Linked DNA regions of Homo sapiens. The protein of the gene in region 1 purifies or fractionates together with the protein of each later gene. This does not show direct contact. Each region holds a gene or a part of one and is shown in the gene's direction. Other genes may lie near its edges.

What was found.
Region 2: the proteins of SRP9 (region 1) and ANP32B purify together in Homo sapiens (affinity purification with mass spectrometry; one large-scale study listed by BioGRID and IntAct). This does not show direct contact.
Region 3: the proteins of SRP9 (region 1) and SART3 purify together in Homo sapiens (affinity purification with mass spectrometry; one large-scale study listed by BioGRID and IntAct). This does not show direct contact.
Region 4: the proteins of SRP9 (region 1) and DHX9 purify together in Homo sapiens (affinity purification with mass spectrometry; one large-scale study listed by BioGRID and IntAct). This does not show direct contact.
Region 5: the proteins of SRP9 (region 1) and SDAD1 purify together in Homo sapiens (affinity purification with mass spectrometry; one large-scale study listed by BioGRID and IntAct). This does not show direct contact.
Region 6: the proteins of SRP9 (region 1) and GPC4 purify together in Homo sapiens (affinity purification with mass spectrometry; one large-scale study listed by BioGRID and IntAct). This does not show direct contact.
Region 7: the proteins of SRP9 (region 1) and LARP1 purify together in Homo sapiens (affinity purification with mass spectrometry; one large-scale study listed by BioGRID and IntAct). This does not show direct contact.

Annotation. Positions count from the first base shown.
Region 1 is NC_000001.11:225,784,326-225,787,825, forward strand, and holds part of SRP9 (signal recognition particle 9 kDa protein), read left to right. Parts: intron 1-2,536; coding exon of another isoform or gene 2,537-2,644; exon of another isoform or gene 2,645-2,660; intron 2,661-3,500. UniProt on the Homo sapiens protein: Component of the signal recognition particle (SRP) complex, a ribonucleoprotein complex that mediates the cotranslational targeting of secretory and membrane proteins to the endoplasmic reticulum (ER).
Region 2 is NC_000009.12:98,010,841-98,014,340, forward strand, and holds part of ANP32B (acidic leucine-rich nuclear phosphoprotein 32 family member B), read left to right. Parts: intron 1-430; coding exon 431-549; intron 550-1,580; coding exon 1,581-1,632; intron 1,633-3,500. UniProt on the Homo sapiens protein: Multifunctional protein that is involved in the regulation of many processes including cell proliferation, apoptosis, cell cycle progression or transcription.
Region 3 is NC_000012.12:108,533,674-108,537,173, reverse strand, and holds part of SART3 (spliceosome associated factor 3, U4/U6 recycling protein), read left to right. Parts: intron 1-388; coding exon 389-466; intron 467-601; coding exon 602-660; intron 661-1,705; coding exon 1,706-1,815; intron 1,816-3,500. UniProt on the Homo sapiens protein: U6 snRNP-binding protein that functions as a recycling factor of the splicing machinery. Promotes the initial reassembly of U4 and U6 snRNPs following their ejection from the spliceosome during its maturation.
Region 4 is NC_000001.11:182,842,347-182,845,846, forward strand, and holds part of DHX9 (ATP-dependent RNA helicase A), read left to right. Parts: intron 1-198; 5' UTR 199-220; coding exon 221-331; intron 332-947; coding exon 948-1,088; intron 1,089-3,500. UniProt on the Homo sapiens protein: Multifunctional ATP-dependent nucleic acid helicase that unwinds DNA and RNA in a 3' to 5' direction and that plays important roles in many processes, such as DNA replication, transcriptional activation, post-transcriptional RNA regulation, mRNA translation and RNA-mediated gene silencing.
Region 5 is NC_000004.12:75,988,146-75,992,433, reverse strand, and holds the start of SDAD1 (protein SDA1 homolog), read left to right. Parts: upstream 1-1,488; 5' UTR 1,489-1,592; coding exon 1,593-1,682; exon of another isoform or gene 1,683-1,723; coding exon of another isoform or gene 1,724-1,738; intron 1,739-4,288.
Region 6 is NC_000023.11:133,405,490-133,408,989, reverse strand, and holds part of GPC4 (glypican-4 precursor), read left to right. Parts: intron 1-3,500. UniProt on the Homo sapiens protein: Cell surface proteoglycan that bears heparan sulfate. May be involved in the development of kidney tubules and of the central nervous system.
Region 7 is NC_000005.10:154,761,877-154,765,376, forward strand, and holds part of LARP1 (la-related protein 1), read left to right. Parts: intron 1-3,500. UniProt on the Homo sapiens protein: RNA-binding protein that regulates the translation of specific target mRNA species downstream of the mTORC1 complex, in function of growth signals and nutrient availability.

The DNA of each region.
Region 1 (3,500 bases):
AAGCTCTGCCTCCCGGGTTCATGCCATTCTTCTGCCTCAGCCTCCCGAGTAGCTGGGACTACAGGCACCCACCACCACGCCCAGCTAATTTTTTTTTGTATTTTTAGTAGAGACAGGGTTTCACCATGTTGGCCAGGATGATCTGGATCTCCTGACCTCGTGATCCACCCGTCTCGGCCTCCGAAAATGGTGGGATTACAGGCATGAACCACCCCACCCGGCCTATCATCTGTTCTTAAACTAGCTCTTTCTCATGCCTGTAATCCCAGCATTTTGGAAGGTCAAGTGGGCAGATCACAAGGTCAGGAGATCGAGACCATCCTGGCTAACACGGTGAAACCCCATCTCTACTAAAAATACAAAAAAATTAGCCAGGCATGGTGGCGGGCACCTGTAGTCCCAGCTACTCAGGAGGCTGAGGCAGGAGAATGGCATAAACCTGGGAGGTGGAGCTTGCAGTGAGCAGAGATCGTGCCACTGCACTCCAGCCTGGGTGACACAGCAAGACTCCATCTCAAAAAAACAAACAAAAAAACTAGCTGCTTCTTCTGTTCCTACCTTCCTACCTTTAGTTGCATTATTTTCCACGTGGTCAGAAATCTGGGGATTTTTTTTAATTAAAAAAATTTTTTTAGAGACAGGATATCGCTATGTTGCCCAGGCTGGTCTTGAACTCCTGGCTTCAAGCAGTCCTCCCACTCAGCCTCCCAAGTTGCTGGGATTACACACATGGGCCACAGTGCACAGCCCAGAGTGATTTCTATTTAGACGGAGTCTCGCTCTGTTGCAAGGCTGGAGTGCAGTGGGCGATCTCTGCTCACTGCAGCCTCCACCTCCTGGGTTCAAGTGATTCTCCTGCCTCAGCCTCCTGAGTAGCTGGGACTACAGCCGTGCACCACCACGCCCAACTAATTTTTTTTTTTTTTTTTTTTAGTAGAGACGGGGTTTTCACCATGTTGACCAGGATGGTCTCCATCTCTTTACCTCATGATCCACCCACCTTGGCCTCTGAAAGTGCTGAGATTACAGGGGTGAGCCACTGCGCCTGGCCTTTTCTTTTTATTTGTTTGTTTGTTTGATGGAGTCTCGCTCTGTCGCCCAGGCTGGAGTGCAGTGGCGCAATCTCGGCTCACTGCAAACTGCCTCCTGGGTTCACGCCATTCTCCTGCCTCAGCCTCCTGAGTAGCTGGGACTACAGGCGCCCGCCACCACGCCTGGCTAATTTTGTGTATTTTTAGTAGAGACGGGGTTTCACCCTGTTAGCCAGGATGGTCTCGAACTCCTGACCTCGTGATCTGCCCGCCTTGGCCTCCCAAAGTGTTGGGATTATAGGCGTGAGCCACTGTGCCTGGACTTTTTTTTTTTTTTTTTTTTAAAGAAGGAGTCTGGCTCTATTACCCAGACTGGAGTGCAATGGTTCATTCTTGGCTCACTGCAACCTCTGCCTTCCGGGTTCAAGCAATTCTCCTGCCTCGGCCTCCCAAGTAGGTGGGATTACAGGTGGGCACCACCACACCCAGCTAATTTTTGTATTTTTAGTAGAGATGAGATTTCACCATGTCGCCCAGGCGGCTGGAGTTGAACTCCTGACCTCAAGCGATCCACCCACCTCGGCCTCCCAAAGTGCTGGGATTACAGGTGTGATCCACCACGCCCAGCCCCAGAGTGATTTCTGAAAGGCTAATTTGATTGTTACTCCCTTGCTTAGAAACCTTTAAACTCCACCCTTGCATCCTCTCTAATCTCTGTCATTTCTGTATTATGTAAGAGCTCCTTTAATGTGCTGTGATGTGTTAGGCCTCAGTGCTTTCAAACATTCTGTTTCCTCCTTTGCAATATTGAATCCCACCTCCACCCCTAATGTGGCCAGACTGCTGCTTATCTTTCAAAACCCAACTTGAGGATTACTTCATTTCTTGCTTTTCATTTTGGCTTTTTGTGCTGTATCACAATTCTTTTATCACATTTGTCTTTTTAATAGACTGCCCTTCAAGACAATAGAGATAGATCAGTAATATTCTTACATGTCTTATTTCCATTGCCTACTATGATGTCTTGACCCAGAGAGCACTCAGTAAACATTTTTTAAATAGTTAGTTCTTTTGAAAATTTTATAGAGTGATTTTAAAAATCACTTTTTGTCTTTGGTCATATATTGTATTTGTGTTCAGGGTTCCATTATGATGAGACTGCATGAAGTTAGACCTTTTAGTGATTACCATGTCTTCTAAGAACCAATTGAATGTAGTGAGTAGCTAAACATGTGGAAAAGGAAGAGTGAATCGAGATGTAGTATACTAGACATAGATTGAAGAGATGTGAATCCTAGCTTAGTCATTTACTAGCATTTTGGCCTTGGAAAAGTTTAGGCCAAAAATTTAGCCTTCTGGTCTCAATTTCCTCATCTGTAAAGTATCATAGTGATAGTAAAAAAATATATGAAAGTATCTAACATGAGTGCTTACCCTTGGTAGATTGAGTACATGTATTCTTTTGTTTGTTGATTGGTTGGTTGATTGCTTTTTTTTTTTTTTAGAGACAGTGTCTTGCTCTATTGCTCAGGCTGCAGTGCAGTGGCATGATCATAGCTCACTGCATCCTCGACCTCCTGGGCTCAAGCGGTCCTCTTGCTTCAGCCTCCTGAATAGCAGAGACTACAGGTGTGCACCACCACACTCAGCTAATTTTTAAATTTTTTTGTCAAGACAGGGTCTCATTATATTGCCCAGGTTGATCTGGAACTCCTGGACTCAAGCCATCTTTCTGCCTTAGCCTCCCAAACCACTGGGATTATGGGTGTGAACCACTAAGTACTTCTTAAATCTTGACATTCCACACAGAAAAATTTTAATTGTGATTGTCACAGAGTGGTTAGGTATACTTGCTGAAGAAAAACCCCTATGTCCTGTCTTAAAAATAGGGGAATAGGCCGGGCGCGGTGGCTCGTGCTGGTAATCCCAGCATTTTGGGAGGCTGAGGTGGGCGGATCATGAGGTCAGGAGTTCGAGACCAGCCTGACCAACACAGTGAAACCCCGTCTCTACTAAAAATACAAATATTAGCATGGTGGTGGGTGCCTGTAATCTCAGCTACTTGGGAGGCTGAGGCAGGAGAATCGCTTGAACCTGGGACTGGGAGGCAGAGGTTGCAATGAGCCAAGATTGTGCCACTGCACTCTAGCCTGGGTGACAGAACTAGACTCGGTCTCAAAAAAAATAAAATAAGGGAATAAATGCAGAACGAATTTTAATACAAAAGGCCTTATCTCCAATTGATGGCTCTTTTTGCCCTGTTAATGATTGAATATAATTAAGGATCCATGTTAACTTCGACTTTTTTATAATCCCATGTATCCATCATTTTTCTAATCCCATAATTGATTTAGAATACTGTCTTCTATGGACCTAAAATCTTTTTCTGTCAGAAATTTCAGTGAGAAGGTATGTACATTCTCTCATAGGACATGTGCTAAAATTTTGATGATGAAGATTAATATGGCC
Region 2 (3,500 bases), on another chromosome or scaffold:
TTTTTTTTTTTTTAACTTTTTACTGTCAAAAATTTCAGACAGTGACAAAGGGTAAAAATAATAGCAAAATGAACCCCCATGTTCTTATCACTCAGCTTCAGCAATTATTGGTCATAGCTGATCTTATTTTATTCCTGCATACCCTTACCTTCTTCCCCACTCCATATAATTTTGAAGCAAATCTTAGCCATTGTATCATTTCATCAGCGAGAATTATAGTGTTTGTCTTATCTACCAGGACTTCTAGCTCTCTGATTTTATGGGACTCTATCGGACAAAGGGACTGAGCTGTAGCACATAGTAGAAAGAAAGTGACTGCAGTTCGTGGCCTTACAGCATTTGTTCTGTGAGCCAGCCCACAGATCCTCAACACTTTGTCCCCTGTGGAGCGTCGAGGATATTTAATGAATCCCTTTTGGACTATTTTTAGAAGGAGAAGATGAGGAAGACGAGGACGATGAGGATGGTGAAGAAGAGGAGTTTGATGAAGAAGATGATGAAGATGAAGATGTAGAAGGGGATGAGGACGACGATGAAGTCAGTGAGGAGGTCAGTGCAGCTGTTTTCTACCCTGCTTCCTATTTGTAATTACAACAAAAGTGGGGGTTTCAAAAAGATGACAAAAGAAAAGAAAAAACACCTTTTGAAGAAATTAGTATACCTGTGAATACATTTACAATATGAATCTGGTTAATTTAGTGTTTGTCTGGCTTTAAATAACTACTAAATAGAATGCCTACTGAACTCAAACTAGTACGGTTCCTGGCTGTGCAAGGTAAGTTCTGGCCCTCTGGGGGAAGGAATGAATTGAGTATTCAGTGTGGTGAGAAAACTGGACATGTTGAGAATTGATGGTATGTCTGTTCCTTCATTGAATTGTAGGGAAGTTTATGTTTACCAAGTCTAAACTTTTTCTTGTATATTCAGTGTAATTCAGTAAATATATATCTGCTATGTTAAAGAGTTGGGAGTACAAAATGAAATGAGATTGTGGTCCTGCCCTGAAAGAGCACAGTCTGGTTTATGAAATACCCAATAATAGAGGATCCCTGAGGAAATAAATGCTATACGAGGGCAGGAGAAAACAGTGTCTTGACTTTGACCCTCAAAGAGGTTTGGGAAACAGGCAGACAACATTAGTTGTTAACAAAACGCATCCTCTTTTGTAGTATAAAAATAAGGCTTGGGGTTTGTGTGATGTCATTAGGTGTATGATTGACATTAAAGTTCTGAAAGAAGCTTTGTATATGAATGGGATATAGAAATTTTTGTCTAAATCTGTTTTGAAATTTGAGATTTTAAGATGTTTTCTTGAATTATCCAGAGTTATATACTAATTAAACATCTAGCAAATGAACTGCTTGCTTCTAAAAAAAATTTTTCTTAGAAAAATTATAAAGCTCGTTAAGGAAAATCAGTGGGTCTTGGTACATCAAAGTAGATAAAAATAACATTACAGTTTCCTGCTTGATTGATATTGTTGCATTTATTTGTACTTCTTAGTTTGGCAGAATTTGTACTATATGCACTTTTCAATTTGGCAGAATTAATTTAATGTTATGCTGTTTGCTATTCTTTAGGAAGAAGAATTTGGACTTGATGAAGAAGATGAAGATGAGGATGAGGATGAAGGTGGGCCTAATGCATGCATTTTGATCATTCTCAGTTAAAAATTAGAGAAAAACATCCATTATTTAGAATATGATACCACTGAGAAGAAAATAAAATACTCTTGGCTCTGGTGGTTTACACATTCACATTCTCGTTTCTATCGTCCCATCAGTGTGTCTGTGCTGGTGCAGGCTCCCTGCTGCTACAGCAGTTATTCCTGTCTCATGGCAAGGGTCCTGTTGGTCTTCAGTCCTCATGGGGTTTTTTTCGGGGTGGTGGTGGTGGTGGTGGTGTTTTGAGACGGAATCTCGCTCTGTTGCCCAGGCTGGAGTGCAGTGGCACGATCTCGGCTCACTGCAAGTTCCGCCTCCTAGGTTCAAGCCATTCTCCTGCCTCAGCCTCCAGAGTAGCTGGGGCTACAGGCGCCTGCCACCACGCCCAGCTAATTGTTTGCATTTTTAGTAGAGACGGGGTTTCACCGTGTTAGCCAGGATGGTCTCAATCTCCTGACCTCGTGGTCCACCCGCCTCAGCCTCCCAAAGTGCCGGGATTACAGGCGTGAGCCACCACACCCGGCCTGTTGTTTTCTTGAGATGGAGTCTTGCTCTGTCGCCCAGTCTGGAGTTCACTGGTGCAATCTAAGCTCACTGCAGCCTCCACCTCCCAGGTTCAAGGGATTCTCTGCCTCAGCCTCCTCAGTAGCTGGGATTACAGGCATGCACCACCACACTTGGCTAATTTTTGTATTTTTAGTAGAGACAGGGTTTTGCCATGTTGGCCAGCCTGGTCTTGAATTCCTGGCTGAATTCAAGTGATCCACCCACCTCGGCCTCCCAAATTACTCGGATTACAGGTGTGAGCCACCATGCCTAGCCTGTTCCCCATGTTTTAAATGTGTTTTTAGGACCAGTCATTTGGTTTACTGTCAAGTGTGAGTTTCTGTGTTTGGAGTTCTTTCATTTTTTAAAAAAAGGCTTTAATAATTGAACCATCATTTTCAGGATATATAAATAGATGTAGCAGTTTCCCAGTTTTGTCAGTGTTAGTCCTTTCCCCACTACAACCAAGACAAATGAAATAGCTGTTACTTATTTAATACTGTTGAAAGTATGCCAGCCTGGACAACATAGACCCTGTCTGTACAGAAAATTAAAAAGTTAGCTGGGACCGGGTGTGGTGACTCACGCCTGTTATCTCAGCACTTTAGGAGGCCGAGGCAGGTGGATCACCTGAGGTCAGGAGTTCGAGAGCAGCCTGGCCAACATGGTAAAATCCTGTCTCTACTAAAAATTAAAAAATTAGTCAGGCGTGGTGGCACGCACTCAAACCCAGGAGGCAGAGATTCAGTGAGCTGAGGTCATGCCACTGCACTGCAGCCTGGACAACAGAGCAAGACTCTGTCTCAAAAAAAAAAAAAAGTTAGCTGCACATGGTGGTGCACACCTATAGTCCCAGCTACTTGGGAAGCTGAGGTGGGAGGACTGCTTGAAGTTGCAGTGAGGCTATGATAGTGCCACCGCACTCCAGCCTGAGTGACAGAGGGAGACCTTGTCTCAAATAAAAAGTCTCATGGTTGTGTCTCAGAAAATCAGGTGTTCACTGTGCTGTTGGCTGATGTTTTCTCAGCATCCACTTTGTCAAGCTCTCAATTACATTTACACTAGATATTACCCTGGTTAGGACCTGGTCACTGCCTTTAAGAACCTGTATGATTGGGAGGCCGAGGCGGGTGGATCATGAGGTCAGGAGATCGAGACCATCCTGGCTAACACGGTGAAACCCCGTCTCTACTAAAAATACAAAAAAATTAGCCGGGTGTGGTGGCAGGCGCCTGTAGTCCCAGCTACTCGGGAGGCTGAGTCAGGAGAACGGCATGAACCCGGGAGGCG
Region 3 (3,500 bases), on another chromosome or scaffold:
TACCTCTGTGGGATCCTTTGCCCCTTCATGTCCCCCCGAAAACAACCAGAAAACCCCTAACTTGTACTTGCACACTCATGTCAGCTGTCACCTCATACAGGTAGCCTTTAGCCATTCTCTTGTTTGCCTGTGTCACCCCAGCTGGGGGAGACTCCCCCCCACAGCACCCTGTGTTTGCCTTTTTCACCACGCTGTCCATGCTCTATTCTGTTCAAATTTCTTTCTCCCCAACTATGTGATGAGGGCAGGAATTGGCAATTTTATTTCTGTGTCCCTTGCATGATGCCAGGTACATAGTGGGTCTCCAGGCAGTTTCAGCATAGGATAAAAAATAAAACAAAGCCAGGCTATGTGGTTTCCTAAAGCCTTTTTTTGCACTTTCCGTTAGACTCCAGTAAAGAGCTGGAGGAGTTGAGGGCCGCCTTTACTCGTGCCTTGGAGTATCTGAAGCAGGAGGTGGAAGAGCGTAAGTATGCCCCAGCCTGTGGTTTTGCCCAGTTGTATTTCCTTGTCTGTACTATTTCCTGGTTGATGTACCTTTTCAGCCAGCGACTATCTGTCTCCAAGTTCCTTTCTAATTTTACTAATTCTGTTTTTGAAGGTTTCAATGAGAGTGGTGATCCAAGCTGCGTGATTATGCAGAACTGGGCTAGGATTGAGGTAAATGTTTTTGACACATCTAGCACTTTCATCCATCATTGTTTAATAGCATCCTATTAAACTTTAATTAAAATTGAGTCAGAATCCCAGATAATGGCCTAAGCTCTATAAGGATTTATGTTATTACCTAGGTAATGGTCTAGGCTCCACAAGGATTCATGTTATTTACCTAGCTTGACATATATTTGTAAATATGTTGGTGAAAATATTAGCTCCCAGCTAGAAGTTGTGCAGTAAATGTTTAGATGCTAGGTATTCACTCGTTTACTTCTGTCTCTGCCTCTTTGCTTCATTTGTGAGAGCACAGTGAGCGTGTACTGTTTGTCAGCACTGTACTAGGTGCTGTGGGAATAAGACAGATAAAATTCCTTTGCTAGTAAGGCTTCTATCTAATGTAGAAGACAGATGATTTGACAAGTAATTAGAGGATATGATGACTTGAATGTCATTACTGGGTCAGGGACACCAAGGTCAGTAAGACACGGAACCTCCCTTGATCAGCAGGTAGGATTGTAACAATTCTAATCATGTTTTCTCCTCGGAGGGAGCGTCAGATAGAAGAAACTAACATTTGTCAGGTAGTTTTTATATGGGATGCTTATCTTTTAACCATTTTAAAGATGAGAAAACTGAGAATTACAGGTTAAGTAATTTGCCCAAGTCACAGTTTGTAAGTATTAGTAGCAGAGTGTGCATTTAATACTAGATCAGTCTTTTTTTTTTTTTTAACATTGTCTCTCAAACACTTGTAGTTAAGCTTGATAAAAATAAAAAACGTGACTATCTAGTACTGTCGAGTAAGTACCGTGCGCTCCCTCTCTCGGTTCTCAGGAAACATAGGTAGATTAGCTTGTGGCTGCAGAAAGGCTCAAGTGTTTGGGCTGGGTCGTTTACCACTGGAGGGAGGCCTGGGGAATGCCCAGGGACATCTGTAACACTAATAGTTGTGGGGTGCTTTTTATGTGTGTCTGTTGGAAGTGTGTTGTATGATGGGTGTCGACGTCATAAGGTTCAGGTCTCCTAACAGCCTGCTGATGCACTTTAGGCTCGACTGTGCAATAACATGCAGAAAGCTCGGGAACTCTGGGATAGCATCATGACCAGAGGAAATGCCAAGTACGCCAACATGTGGCTAGAGTATTACAACCTGGAAAGGTAACTGATCTCGGGGTGGGGAGGGAGGCAGTGCTTGTCAGCTGTGCACCTGTCTTCACTCCTGGCTGACTCCTACCAGCTTGGACTAGCTCCTTAGAACTGGGCTGTTTTCTTTCATTCTGTCTCTTTCAGTAGTGGGTACATTTTTAATGGGCAGGGCTAGAGAACCAGACATGATATTTTGTGCCTGGAACTCTTATAGCCATGCATTTCTTTTAATTTGTTTTTGTCTTGATTTTTGGGCATGATATTTTATTTGACCTTTTGGAGCTATTTGTTTTTTATATTTGCTTTTATAGAAAAGTAGAAAATACTAAAAAGCTAAGAGAAAAAAAACTCAAATTACTGACCCAGTCATAACCATGACCCATTCTTTGAGACTTTTCTATGTTTAAATTTTTTTGTAATGAAAATGCAATTATAGCATGCATGTGTTACAAGCCTTTAAAACTATTTGAACGAAATAAGATAGGCCTAACAATATTTATAACATGGGGAAAACATAAAGAATGTGACCAACTTTTCAGTCTGTCTTGAACGTTGTTCATTGCATAACATTGCTACATTGCTGGGTTTTCTTTTTTGAAGATTTTTTCCCTATTTAAAAAACACTGTGTGCCCAAATTAGAATATTTACAAAAATATGTGATAGAAAGCGACAGTTTCTTTTCTTTTTTCGGGGGAGGTGGGGAGTCTCACTCTGTTGCCCAGGCTGAAGTGCAGTGGTGCAGTCTCAGCTGCAACCTTGCCTCCTGGGTTCGAGCAATTCTTCTGCCTCAGCCTCTTGAGTAGCTGGGATTACAGGCGTGCACCACCACACCTGGCTAATTTTTGGATTTTTTTTTTTTTTTAGAAGAGGCACAGTTTCACCATGTAGGTCATGCTGACCTCAAGTGATCCTCCTACCTCGGCCTCCCAAAGTGTAGGAATTACAGGCATGAGCCACCATATCCGGCTAAACGTGACAGTTTCTTACAATCCCACCCCAGAGATAACCACTGTTAAAGCTTGTTGAATATCCCCCTAGATCTGCAGTTCACAATTTTTTTGGTCTCAGGATCCATTTTCCACTCTTAAAATTGGAGGATCCCAAAAAACTTTTATGTATGTGAGTTATATCTATTGATATTTATAATTTATAAATTGAGAAATCTAAAAAACATTTTAATTTATTTAAATATAACAAATTATCTAACATTAATATCTTTTTTGAGCAGTGACTGTTTTCCAGACCCCAAAATAATATAGTGAGAAAAGTGGCAGTGTTTTCTATTTTTGCAAATATATTTATTTGCACATTATTCTGACCTAGGAGAAGACAGCTAAATTCTCATGTCTGTTACTGATTCTGTCTGTTGTGATCTGTTGTTTTCATTGAAGAGGTTAGGAAAGAAAGGTATTTTAGAAGCATTTTCAGATAATTGTGGGTATTCTTCTTTCATACATATTATAGCAAAACTTCAGTGTTGCATGTGGAATCTGAAACCATATTGACAGAGTCTGTTACAGTAATACCCATTTGTCTATTTTATCTTTTACTTGATGCCACAATTCTACGACATTATTTGGAAAAATCCCAATTCACTAAATCATGCAGCTCTTCCAATGTTGACATATTTCATCCTATAGTATTAAAAAATCGTATTTGTTCATATCTGTATTGATCTTAGTTGAAAAGTATTTTA
Region 4 (3,500 bases), about 43 Mb from region 1:
GTTCAAATCATACCGTTTTGTATCCTTTTTCTTACAACATATAAACGTTCCAATTATGTCGTTAAAATTTATGGGGAGTCTTAATAGCAACATGATAGAATATCCTATGTTTAACCCAGATTCAGTAATCTAGATAATTGGTTCCTCCCAGTTTTTGCTATTATAAATGCTGTTTTTAACTGACTTTTGTTTTCTTAGATCTGAAGAAGACACTTGAATCATGGGTGACGTTAAAAATTTTCTGTATGCCTGGTGTGGCAAAAGGAAGATGACCCCATCCTATGAAATTAGAGCAGTGGGGAACAAAAACAGGCAGAAATTCATGTGTGAGGTACTGAAGAATACAGTTTGCATTTATGTGATTTATGAGGTTCATTTTGGGGTTAAAAGAAAAATGTTTTCTGTTTGGAGATGTTAATGTGTTGCACATTAGGAAACGACAGTTCTTTATTGTGACTTGACTGCTATTGTAAATCATTTTCAAGTCAGCATTACTTTTAAAACAATCTGACAGGTAAATTATTCTAATTAGAGCCTATATCTTCCTCAGCTTCCTCAGTACCAGTAGTGGGGATGGGAAAAGTTGGATCAACTGTTTGCAGTTTTATAAGCACGTTTAGAAAGCAGAGCAATTCTTGATTGCTTCAAATCAAAGTGCTTAAATACAAATGGAGAGCTTGTTCATGGATATTACAGAATCAGATTTTAATGTGAACCTTCTGTTATATGAGAAAAAAAAATCTGAGCCACTTAAATTATTTTTGGATACAACACAATTTAAGCTTTTTCAGTAGCTCATGCATTCTCTTATTTTTATATTTATATTTATAGAGTATATTTCCTAAAGTTAGCTGTTTGTTGTCTCTTAATGGACTACTGAATTACGACTTTTTAAAATCTCAGAATTACCCAGGTCAGTCTCTTAGTACTTTTTTTTTTTTTTAAAGGTTCAGGTGGAAGGTTATAATTACACTGGCATGGGAAATTCCACCAATAAAAAAGATGCACAAAGCAATGCTGCCAGAGACTTTGTTAACTATTTGGTTCGAATAAATGAAATAAAGAGTGAAGAAGTTCCAGCTTTTGGGGTAAGTACCTATGGCGAAGCACTTGAGATGTATGTTGTAAAGTTGTACAAACTCAATATGCGTAAGAGACTCAAGATAGTAATTTTTCACTGTTTTCAGATATATCGTGTTTCGTAATGAAATTTGGCATCTTGTTTTGTCTCAGCACTGGACAAAATTTCTGAAGATGTGGATTGCATCCTTATTATATACCTGTCTTAGGGGCTTGAGAAATTCCATTAATCTTTGTGTCTTATGGCTTTATTTCATGTATTTATACACCAGAAATTTCAGAGTCTGTTATGTTCCATTCATTACCAATGATAATACTTTAAATAAAATAGAAAAATCAGTAATATTTTAGACATGTTTGCTCCCATTGACACTCCCCCTGCCCCGTAAGCGATGAGGTCTTGCTCTGTTACCCAAGCTAGAATGCAGTGACACAACCATAGCTCACTGCAGCCTCAAACTCTTGGGCTCAAGCAGTCCTTCATCCTTAACCCCCTTAGTAGCTGGACTACAGGTGCATGCCACCACTTCTGGCAAGTTCTTTGTGTTTTGAGGCAGAGTCTTGCACTGTCGCCCAGGCTGGAGTGATCTCGGCTCACTGCAGCCTCCGCCTCCTGGGTTCAAGCGATTCTCCTGCCTCAGCCTCCGAGTAGCTGGGATTACAGGCACGCTCCATGATGCCCAGCTATTTTTTATGTTTTTAGTAGAGATAGGGTTTCACCATGTTGGCCAGGCTGGTCTTGAACTCCTGACCTCAAGTGATCCATCCACCCACTTCCGTCTTCCAAAGTGCTGGGATCACAGGCATGGGCCACTGCACCTGGCTGACATGTCCTTATATAACAAAATAGTATTTTATGCAATGGAGTATTTTTGTGTTTTTTATGTCATGATTATCTTAATTATATTACGTAAGTATGCAACAAATACCTCTGTCTAGTAGGTTGTTTTGGGGGATTTTTGTTTTGTTTTTCTGCCTTTTTTCTTTTTGGGGCTCAATCAAACTCTTGGCCTCAAGCCATCCTCCCACTTCAGCTCTTCCCCAGTAGCTGGGACTGTGGGTGTGTGCCGCTACACTAGGCTCTAGTAGTTTTTAAGAAATAAGGTTTTTTTTGTTTGTTTGTTTGTTTTGTTTTTTAAGACGGAGTCTTGCTCTGTTACCTAGGGTGGAGTGCAGTGCTCACTGCAACCTCCACCTCCTGGGTTCAAGCAGTTCTCCTGCCTCAGTCTCCTAAGTAGCTGGGATTACAGGCACCTGCCAACATGCCCAGCTAAATTTTGTATTTTTAGTAGAGACGGGGTTTTACCATTTTTTGCCAGGCTGGTCTCGAACTCCTGACCTCGGCCTCCCAAAGTGCTGGGATTACAGGTGGGAGCTACGGCGCCTGGCCCACGCCCAGCTAATTTTTGTGTTTTTAGTAGAGACAGATTTTCACCATGTTGGCCAGGCTTGTCTTGAACTCCTGACCTCAAGTGATCCGCCCCCTTCAGCCTCCCAAAGTGCTGGGATTACAGGTGTGAGCCACTGTGCCCAGCCTGTCTATGCCAGTTTTAACAGGGTCCTGTTACTGAATTTTTGTATTCTGCCTTGTTTATGACAGTATTCTGACTCGTTATGAAAGAAATCTTATTTCCTTCCATTCCTTTGACTAAGAACTCGATAGACTTACTTTCCGGTAGATTAACTGCTGGGTAATTATAGTATCTTACAGTCTTTAATTTTATTGGTTTGCCTATCTGTAAAATGAAGGGATTGGGCAAGATCATCTTAAAAATGCCTTCTGGTAGAGAAAACAGTTTTGCAAATGTCTTTTACATGTTTGAAGTCTCCCTCTATTCTTTATCTTTTAGGCTCTTCTCTATGGTCTTGTAGATCTGCTAGTGACAAATTCTCTTATTCTCTTTCTGAAAATATTTTTATTTTACCTTCTTTAAGAATATTTTCACTGGATGTAGAATTCTGGGGTACCAGATATTTTTTTCCCTCTTTTGGTATGTAAGTGGAAAAAAAAAAAAACAATTTTCCTCTTCTCTCATACCACAACAATCAACAAAGAAGATTTCTGTGACTAAATGTGGGGTGGAGGTGGGGGACTTTTTCCACACACCCCAAGCAAGCAATCAGTTCTGCAGCAGTCACTAGCAGGGTATCCTCCAGTTCAACTCTGACACTACCTGGAGATAGCGTCAGACTCCACAGGGTGAGGACTCAGTCCCACAAGACTCCCCAGCCCCTTCAGACACCACTTGCAAGTCTGGGCCTCTAGAACTTCTGACTGACTAGCTTCAAGTTATGGTTTTCATGACTGCCTCTTTGGGGTCAGTTAATTTGCTAGTGTGGCTCACAGAACTCAGGAAAACCTACATTTACCAGTTTATTATAAAGAATACTACAAAATACAGTTGGTGAAATAAGTAGGG
Region 5 (4,288 bases), on another chromosome or scaffold:
AATTTAAATCTATGCTTTTTAAAAAAGATTTATTGCTGACATTTATTTCTTAACTTCACAGGTAACTGATTTGATAATTAATAAATAAGTCATTCTCCAAAAGCAGCTGAATAACATGGTTTGTGAAGCATTCTTTATTTTGTGTGCAGGTGTGATTACAGAGTTGTTTTGTTTGGGGCTCATTTTATCATCGTCACAGATGAGGTTGGCGTTCTATAAAATTGCTTTGGTTAAGCAGAACCCTATTGTCTGGCTATTTTGCCAGACCAGCAACCAGCTACCAGCTGTTAGGCTATGTTTTTTCTCATGTAGTTACAATCAAGACTGTCTAGATTGAAATCTCATCTTCCTCACAGGCTATGAATTGAGGCAGTCAACTTCCCTGAGCTTGTTTCCTCTTCTGTAAAATGTAGATAACAATAGCACCTATTTTAGAGGGTTGTTCTGAGGATTAAATAAGTTAATACAAGTGCTTGGAATAGTGCCTGGCACAGGGTGGGTAATTAGGTTTTTTTTTCTCTCTCTCTAATTCACAACACCCTACCTCATTCATTCAACCCTTATTGATTTTTTACACCTTGAGATTGTAGAAATGTATTCTCCTCTTCGAATTACCAGGATCTGAATTAAAAACTCTGACTGAGGAGTGCTTACAAAGCTTATAACGATGGTTGAATTTTAACGATTAATTGCATTTATTAATGGTCAACATGATCACATTTTATCCAGCCCTCTTTTCCCTTGTATGGGTCACGCTAAGTTGAAACAACCAAAACCAAAATAAAAACATATCTAAAATCATACACATTAACTTATATGACCCTCGTTGCTCTTTTTTCCTCCTAAGAGGGAATAGTGTTATCTAGCGCCACGGTTCTTTTCAGTTTTGTTTTGTTTTGTTTTGTTTTTTATACGGAGTTTCGCTCTTGTTGCCCAGGCTGGAGTGAAATGGTGCAATCTCGGCTTACCGCAATCTCCGCCTCCTGTGTTCAAGCGATTCTCCTGCCTCAGCCTCCCTAGTAGCTGGGATTACAGGCATGCGCCACCACGCTCGACTAATTTTGTAATTTTAGTAGAGACGGGGTTTCTCCATGTGGATCAGGCCGGTCTCGAACTCCCGACCTCAGGCCCGCCTTGGCCTCCCAAAGTGCTGGGATTACAGGCGTCAGTTTCTAATTTTAGACTGCGGGATTAAAAATAAACGATTAATCCTCATTTATGTGCTTCATATGGGTGTCGGAATGACGATACATGCTAACACACGTGAAAAAATTTACATTTCAGATCCTTTCAGAAACGCAAGGCAATATTAAGTAGTAGCATATGCCCAAGGGCGAGGGGCGGGTCGGCGGTGGCTGGCTCTCCAATACACCACAGAGTATTTTGGCAACGAGAGTAATTTTGACACTCTGAGGCTTCCGTAGCATAGCTCGCTTTAGGAACCGCTAAGGTGTCGCCTGCCTAGAGTCCCATGCGCTATTTCCGGTCATACCCGGAAACACGAGTCCAAGCTGCAGCTGGCAGGGATTGCGGGGTGCCGGCCGTCTGAGTTTTTTTAAAACTGCTCGCCGCGAAGTCTGTCTGCAGCCAAAATGTCCAACAGAAACAACAACAAGCTTCCCAGCAACCTGCCGCAGTTACAGAATCTAATCAAGCGAGACCCGCCGGCCTACATCGAGGAGGTGGGAGTGCGGCGCGGCAGACGCTAGAGGCCGGATAGTGGATGGTTGAGACGCCGGTGCGGGAAAGCATGGAGTGGGGCTGGGATCCAGGCTCGCCGCCTATTCTTCTGTTAGGTTCAGGGGTCCCTCCAGAGGAGAGAAGGGGTTGGGGACGGGACATGCCTTAGGGTTCGTTCCCCACCTCTTGAAAATCTGTTGCCCCTTTGGATTTTCTACCTGCCCTGCTGCCGCTGAAACACCTTTAAAACCTCATTTTGTTTTAAGATATTTTTCTTCGTCCGCACGGAAGTGGAGAGAGAAATGGGCCGCACCCAACCACCAACTTCCACGCGGATTTCTCAGCCTCTTTTCAGAAATCCCAAACTTGAATTAGTCGGTAACCTTTGATGAATCGTATGTTAGAATGCTTTCGATTGACGTCCGTTTCTGAGAGCAGGCTGTGTACCCTGGACTGTGCCAGGAAAGGGGGGGGGGGGGTTTCTCAAGCACAACGGACAGACTCGGGAGCTTAGTATATTTAGTTAAGCCAGGATTCAAACTTACCGGAGACTGGCATGACTCGGATGTCAGAATTTGCTTCGGGAAAAGATTAGGTTGAAAAATTAGGCCCTCATTGTGATGGGCTTTGTGTACTGACCTCATGTAAGTTGTGAACATTAGGGGTGTTTGAACCAAGTACCGACAAAACGAAAGTGGTTTTTGATATATTAATCTGACAGGTGCTTCCTTCAGACACTCATTTATCAGACGGGCATTAAACAGGTATCTCTGCTAGGCATTTGCTGCAATTACATGTTTGTGCTTCTACCAGATTGTGATTTGTTCAGTGGCTAACACAATTACTTATTTTTTCATTGCCCTTCTCACTTCCCTCCTCCCCTAAATTTTCACATATATGTATTTTATGAGTGCTTTTTAACACATGGCAATCTCAGTGGCTTAGGTCACCAGTAGAGAAAGCCTCTCCAAGGATCAAGGTAGTGGAAATAAAGAGTAGGAAACAAGTACAAGAAGTTAAGTAACATAGGCAAGGCTTTGAGATGCTTAAAGCATTGTATAGCCATTCGCAAAGAAAGTGGTAAGTTGAGAGTCTATATAATTCCGTTAGATAACTCCTGCTGCTGACTGTTGTTAACCAGTTGTGTAACCGAAGCAGGTTAATCGCTGAGCCTATGTGGGTATTTTAATATGTAAGAAGGGGGTAATAACTACTTCTTTAATTCACTTAAGTATATATGCAAAATCACATATAACTACTGTGTGTTGTTATTCTAGGTAGGCGTTGGGGTACAGTAATGAATAAGACAGATAAGAAAGCATTCTTCTCTTGGACTTACATTCAAGTGAGTGTAGACTTATTATGGTAGAGATTATGAAGAAAATAAAACTGGATGGGAATAGGTTAGAATTGGAGGCTTCTGATTTAGACCCCGTAAACAGGGAAGGTGGCTCTGCAATGATGATATTGAGCCAGGCAGGTAAACATCATTTTAGGTACAAGGAATAGAAAGTGCAGAAGCTACTGGTGGAAAAAAAGCAGAGAAGAAGCCAGTGTAGCTAAAGTGTAGTCAGCATAGAAGAGGGCAGTGGAAGATGATGTAGGAAATGCAGGCAGGGGTCAGCTTATTCAGAGCCTCTTAGGCCCTGTTAACGAGTTTAGATTTCACTCTGAGTGCCTCGGGGAGTGATTGAAGAGTTTTAAGCAGGAGAGTGACATGATCTGACATATTTTTTTTAAGAATTTACTCTGGAAGTTACATGTGGAATGGCTTGTAGAGGAGCAACACTGGAAGCAGGGTAACTAATATAATGGATCTCAGAATAACCAAGCAAGGGATTGTGGTGTCATTGGAATTATGGGCAAAGATTCGTGCTGTTCTACGTGGAGGTAGAGCTAGTAGAGCCTTGGGATTTCTGGTGGAGTGGATGTGGGGGATAAGGAAAAAAGAAGGAATGAAGGATCACCCAGGTTTTTTATTTATATGTCTAGGTAGATGATAGTGCCATTTCCTGAAGTTCGTTCATTTGACAAATACTGTTGATTACCTGCTATATGTAAGGCACAATGCTGGGCCCTGGGACTACATAATATTGAGCTGTACCGATAAAAATTCTATGCTCATTAAATGACATTCTAGTAGGGGGTGATATACAGTAACAAATAATATAGTATGTTAAATAATGAAAAGTGCTGTGAAAAAAAGACAATAGGAAAGTACTTATGTATGTTGGGGGTGAGATGGGTATTGCAGTTTTAAATTGGATAGTTAGGGAAGGTCTTCTTGAGATAGTAATCTTTGAGTGAAAACCTGAAGGACATGAGGGAGAGCTGTGCATATGTTTAGGAAGAATGATCTAGGCAGAAGGAACAGAAGGTATAAAGACCTTGGGGTAGGTATGCCTGGTAGATTTCAGGAACATAAAGGCCAGTGTGGCTCCAAATAGGGAATGAGGAAAGGGGGTGAATTTGGGATTCTACCTCCCAATGAGATGGAAGCCTTTACAGGGTTTTGAGCAGAAGAATACATGAACCACCCTATATGAGAACAAGATCACCGTTACTTGAGGATAGACTGTATGTAGGAGGGCAAAGATAGAAGCAGAGA
Region 6 (3,500 bases), on another chromosome or scaffold:
AGAGACGTGGTTTCACCATGTTGGCCAGGCTGGTCTAGAACTCCTGACCTCAAATGATCCAGCCTCCCAAAGTGCTGGAATTACAGGCATGAACCACCATTCCAGGCCTGTATCTAAACACTTTGAAGTGAAATAAATTTAAAGTAAATATGCATATGTTGGTATAGCTTGGAGAACGTTTTTATTCTTTTGGGGGAGTACTTGTCTTTACCACTTCATTAATAACTGAATGCTTATAGGATTTTTTTTTATTTTTTGAAACAGAGTTTCGCTCTTGTTGCCCAGGCTGGAGTGCAATGGCACGATCTCAGCTCTCCGCAACCTCCGCCTCTGGTTCAAGCCATTCTCCTGCCTCAGCCTCCAGAGTAGCTGGGATTACAGGCATGCACCACCATGCCCGGCTAATTTTGTATTTTTAGTAGAGATGGAGTTTTTCCATGTTAGTCAGGCTGGTCTTGAACTCCTGACCTCAGGTGATCCACCTCGGCCTCCCAAAGTGCTGGGATTACAGGCATGAGCTACTGCACTGGCCAGGAATTTTTCAGAAAGATTCAGAATTGTTTTTCTTAATGCCTTGAGATACACTTCTTTAAAGAATGAACAGTTGAGACTGTTGTGATTAGGCAATTTAGAGCAAATTTACCACATGCAACTGTTCAGTGTGCATCAGTTACCTTTTAACATAAAAAAACTCAAGTTTATTGTCTTTACCAAGAAGAACACAAGCTTTGAAGGGTATCAGAATATTTTATATAAATAAACAGACATACTAAAATACAAACAGGTAAAAACTAGCATTTTCAAATCTACTTGGTTAAACATCTGTTGCTTACTATAGAGAACATGAAAGTGCAGAAAATGCATGAAGCGATTCCATCCTGGAGGTAATTTGAAATATTATGTTTAAGTTCTGATGCATTTAATTCAGCAATCTGGTGGGAGAGAAAAATCAAAGAGCTGCATCAGCCAGGTATTCAACTTTTGAGAAAGAAACTCTAACAAATGTTAGAAATTAGGGGAAAAAACTGAATGGGAGAGTTAAAAAAGTCAATAACCTCCAGGAAGCCTGGAAACTATGTAAAAACATCTTATTGGAAGCCCAGATAAATGTGTGCCAGACATCAAAAAGACCAACTGCTCGGGGGAAGAAAAAAAGAACCCGGCATGACTAACTGGCAGAGTAAAAGAGGCTGCTTCAGGGAAAAAGGCATCTTTCACAAAATACAAAGAGTTTAAGCCAGAAGAGGGAAGTCCACTAGGTTTCACAAGGCCCAGGTACAAACTAGAAATTAAGTGGGCTGACAGAGAATTGAAGTTGAATCTTGCAAGGGATTTGAAAGATGGCATGTGTGATAATAATGGTGAAAAGGGTGGGTTGAGTCCAACCTATCTAGGGAGAAGCAATATGGCTTCTTTAAGGGTAAACCATGCCTGATTGATCTCTCGGGATTCTTTGTGTGGAAAAAAAAGCATGAGGATACAGGGAAGCAGACATACATCATTTAGGTTTTTAAAAATTATGCAATGGGATTCTAAGGCAAAGAATATTCAGAAAATATATTTACTTTGAGATAGGTGGGGATAGTTGGACAGAGAGGGAGAGTGAGGGAGGGAAGAGACTCCACTGTTGTAGATGGAGTAGTTTACATGGAGAAGACATGGCTTGTTAGGATGAGTAGTTCTAGCCTAACTCTGGCAAATTTGTTGTCAAATACCTTTGGTGAGGTTCTTCCCTCTTTGAAAAATGGGGTGAAATTGAACCACCTGGCACCTGAGGAGCTTTTAAAATATACTAATGCCTGGGTACCACCCCATACCAATGAAATAATACTTTTTTCAGGAAGGACTAGGCCATGATGGATGGATGGATGGATGGATGAATGTGTGTGTGTGTGTGTGTATTTTTTTTTTTTGAGATGGAGTCTTGCTCTTGTCACCCAGGCTGGCGTGCAATGGCGTGATCTCAACTTACTACAGCCTCCACTTCCTGGGTTCAAGCGATCCTTCTGCCTCAGCTTCCCGAGTAGCTGGGACTACAGGTGTGTGCTGCCACACCCGGCTGGTTTTTTGTATGTTTAGTAGAGATGGGGATTCACCATGTTGGCCAGGCTGGTCTTGAACTCCTGGCCTCAAGTGATCCACCCACCTTGGCCTCCCAAAGTATTGGTATTACAGGCGTGAGCCACTGTGCCTGGCCCATGGTAGTTTTTTTTAATTTTCTTTTTTTTTTTTTTTTTTTTTTGAGACGAAGTCTTGCTCTGTTGCCAAGGCTGGGTGCAATGGCATGATCTCCACTCACTGCAACCTCCGCCTCCTGGGTTCAAGTGATTCTCCTGCTTCAGCCTCCTGAGTAGCTGGAATTACAGGAGCACACCACCACTCCTGGCTAATTTTTTATATTTTTAGTAGAGACAGGGTTTCACCATGTTGGCCAGGCTGGTCTCGAACTCCTGACCTCGTGATCCGCCCGCCTCGGCCTCCCAAAGTGCTGGGATTACAGGCGTGAGCCAGCATGCCTGGCCTAGGTCCCTTCCATCTCTGAGATTCTATTATTCTAAATTTTCCAATGAGATTCATCACAAAATGTTGTTTGAGATAAAGCCTTTAGTTTAGAATCAGTGCATGGTTGTTTTAATTTTGGCTAACTTGGATTTAAGAGAAAGGTGTGTCAAACATGGAGGAAAATGTTTTCAATCAAGATATAAGTGTGAACCACAACTGAGTGCTGCTTTGCTGCAGGTAGAGACATAAGACAAGCACAATGAGAATACTTTGGAAAGAATTAGAACAGAATCCAGCCTTGCTGTCATTTATTGATTAAGTGTCAACATGCTAGGTGATATTTCTTCCCTTTTTCTTTATTGGTAAAATTAAAATAAATCTCTTTATCCCTTACTTTAATGTCCTCTTTGCCATGTGTTTATTCTCTTCAAGTATCTTATCAAGAAATAGAAGTACAGTAAATCCCTAGGCTTCTAGCTGGTGCAACCATCCAGAACACAGCTGGGAATGTGGAAGTAAGCAGAAAAGCCAAATGATGGAAACAGCTGTCATAAAGCCCATGCATTCTATGTGGAGAAAAGGCCTTCAGAAATTTATTATCAGCAATCATTGAATGGCTCCTGTATCCAGAGCAGTATGCTGGGTGCAGGGGATTCCAAGAGGTGTCAAGCAGGAATCAAGCTTTTGAGGAACTTGCATTCAAATTAGGTAGATAGGGTTTATACGTGAGAAGATAAAATGCTTTGGTTATCCAGTTTCCCAGTCTATGGCAGATTAGAAGTAGCAAATGGTATTGGTTGGGGGCCGATGGGAATCACAGGAAGGGATCGTGTTAGAGGCAGGTAAGACTTGACATCTGGAAGAAGTGAGAGAGGACAGTTGGAGGGTGACCAGAAGCTGAATGGGAGAGCCAGAACTTGCTGATCTTGGCAGTTTGAGATCTCCTAGAATGGGCGAATGCTCAAAGCCACCTTTGTAACCATAATCATCGAGGGCAC
Region 7 (3,500 bases), on another chromosome or scaffold:
GGCTAATCCCGGTGCTGAGGTTGTTTAGAGCGTCAAATTGCTGTTGAGTATGGGGCAGTACAGTTCATGAATTGAAAAAGTCCTGCTGGGCGCGGGGGTTCACACCTGTAATCCTAGCACTTTGGAAGGCCGAGGCGGGCGGATCATGAGGTCAGGAGTTTTAAGACCAATCTGGCCAGCATAGTGAAACCTCGTCTCTACTAAAAATACAAAAAAATTAGCCAGGCATGGTGGCGTGTGCCTGTAGTCCCAGCTACTCAGGAGGCTGAGGCAGGAGAATTGCTCGAACCGGGGAGGCGGAGGTTGCAGTGAGCTGAGATCGTGCCACTGCACTCCAGCCTGGGTGACAAGAGCAAGACTCCATCTCAAAACAAAACAAAAAAACCAAAAAAACCTCCTACACAGAGGTAAGATGTAAGTTTTTTTTTTTATTTCAGAAGATTGCATTCCAAAGCCAGATATTGGTAATTACTCACTCTGAGGGTTTATCTGTGCCTTTCCGGAACTGAGTGGATAATCAGGAGTTAGCTGAATTTTCAACAAGGGCTATTTGTGGTAGTTACCAGGGGCAAGTGGCCAACTTCACATGGCTAATAGCCTGGGATGTCTTCCTGAAGGATGTTCCCAGAATCAAGGACAGTCCTAGTGTGGCACCTTTTTTTTCTTGGCTGAACCTTTAGACTGGCAAAGCCCTAGGTGTGGGGAGGGGAGGATTGTGGGTCTTCATAGATGAATTTTGTAAAGCCAGCTTGGTAGATCTGTCATATATGGCATGGGACTTCTCCATCTCAGTTTGATGTGCTGTTAGTAAACCTAGATGATTCCTCCATGACAGGCCTTGTTTACAGGCCACTTTGTAATTATTCTCCAAACTAGTGGTAACCACCTTACTCTCAAGACATACATTCCAGCCACTCAAAGTTGCCTTTTTCTTTGCCTTAGAATGGAGTTGCAAGCTTCTCAGAGGAAATTAAGTCCCACAGTAGCCAGGAGCCATCTAGATAAATGATCTGATAGAGATAGGGCTCTGTATGGTTTTTGCTCTGCTTTTCACTTAAACTAATTTATTTAGGCTCTTGATAATTCAGAGATAAGTAATAGTACTGGAATAGTCACCATTTACTGCATTTACTGAGTGTCTCACCTGTTCTAGCCCAAGTGATCTGCTGAGCAGATGCTTTTTTTTTTTTTTTTTTCTTTTTTTGAGAAAGAGTTTCTCTCGTTGCCCAGGCTGGAGTGCAGTGCACGATCTCAGCTCACCGCAACCTATGCCTCCTGGGTTCAAGCGATTCTCCTGCCTCAGCCTCCCAAGTAGCTGGGATTACAGCCATGCACCACCACGCCTGGCTAATTTTTTGTATTTTTACTAGAGATGGGGTTTCTTCATGTTGGTCGGGTTGGTCTCGAACTCCTGACCTCAGGTGATCTGCCCACTTCGGCCTCCCAAAGTGCTGGGATTACAGATGTTAGCCACCGCGCCTGGCCCAGCAGATGCTCTTTTTATTCCCACTTCACAGATGAGGAAAGTGAGACTCAGGAGACGTTTAGCAACTCTGTCCTTCTAATTGCTCAGACTAAAGACCTTAAGATCATCCTTGCCACCTCTGTTTTTTTTTTTCTGGCTGGTTGCAGTGGCTCACACCTGTAATCCCAGCACTTTGGGAGACCGAGATGGTAGGATCATGTGAGCCCAGGAGTTCAAGGCTGCAAGTGAGCTGTGATTGTGCCACAGTACTCCAGCCTGGGCGACAGAGTGAGACCCTGTCTCTAAAAAGTAAATGTCTTTTTGTGACCCCACATGTAATGTACTAGTACATCCTTTGACAATTAAACACTGTGTCCTGGCCGGGCACAGTGCCTCATGCCTGTAACCCCAGCACTTTGGGTGGGAGGCCAAGGTGGGCAGATTGCTTGAGCCTGGAAGTTTGAGACCAGTCTGGGTAACATAGGGATACCCCATCTCTTACAAAAAAAAAAAAGTACAAAAATTAGTCGAGCATGGTGGTGCGTGCCTGTAATCCCAGCTCCTGGGGAGGCTGAGGTGGGAGGATCACTTGAGCCTTGGGAGGTAAAGGCTGCAGTGAAAGATGAGTGTGTCACTGCACTCCAGCCTGGGCAACAGAGCAGGACTGTCTCAAAAAGAAAAAGCTGCCTGGGTGCGGTGGTTCACGCCTGTAATCCCAGCACTTTGGGAGGCCGAGGCAGGTGGATCACCTGAGGTCAGGAGTTCAAGACCAGCCTGGCCAACACAGTGAAACCCTGCCTCTACTAAACATACAAAAATTAGCTGGGCGTGGTGGCATGCGCCTGTAATCCCCAGCTACTCGGGAGGCTGAGGCAGGAGAATCGCTTGAACCTGGGAGGCAGAGGTTGCAGTGAGCTGAGATTGCACCATTGCACTCCAGCCTGGGTGACAGAGCAAGACTTCATCTCAAAAAAAAAAAAAAAGCTGCATCCAGGTTGGGTGTGGGGGCTTATACCAGTCATCCCAGCACTTTGGGAGGATCACTTGAGCGCAGGAGTTCAAGACCAGCCTGGGCAACATAGTGAGAGACCCCATCTCTTTAAAAAAAAATTAACTGGGTGTGGTGGTGCATTCCTGTGGTCTGAGCTACTCTGGAGGCTGAGGTGGAAGGATTGCTTGAGCCCAGGAGGTCGAGGCTATATTGAGCAAGAGCCACTGCACTCCAGCCTAGGCAATGCAGTGAGACCATGTCTCAAAAAAAAAAAAAAAAAAAAAAAAACTGGCTGGGCGTAGTGGCTCACACCTGTAATCCCAGCACTTTGGGAGGCCGAGGCGGGAGGGTCAGTTGAAGTCAGGAGTTTGAGACCAGCCTAGCCAACATGGTGAAACCCAGTCTCTACCAAAAATACAAAAAGTAGCTGGGCGTCATCGTGCACACCTGTAATCCCAGCTACTTGGGAAGCTGAGGCACAAGAATCGCTTGAACCTGGGAGGCAGAGGTTGCAGTGAGCCGAGATCATGCCACTGCTCTCCAGCCTGGGCAACAGAGCAAGACTCCATCACAAAAAAAAAAAAAAAGAAACAACAAAAAAAACCTATGTCCAGATCTAAATGCTTGTACCGCCTCGTCTCTTGCTGGCCTGGACCATACATCATCATTTCTCATGTAGATTTTTGCAGCAGCCTCTTAACTGGTCTCCTATCACTCCTACTTAAAGCCCTCTGGTAACTTCTTAGCAGAGTAAAATTCAGAGTCCTTAGAGTGTTCTCTAAGACCGCACTTGATCTGGTCTCTGTCCACCTAACCTCTGACCTCATCTTTCATCACTTGCCCCTTCTTCACTCATTCCCTTCCAGCATCAGTCCTCACTTCCTGAAACATGTCATGTACTCTTTGCTTTGGGTCTTATGTTCTGTAGTGCTCTTCCCGCAGATCACTGTGGTGGAAATGCCTTCCCAGACCACCCTATATAGACTAGCAAGTCCTGACCTTGGATTCCCTCTCTCCATCCCTCTTACCCTGCTTCATTTTTCT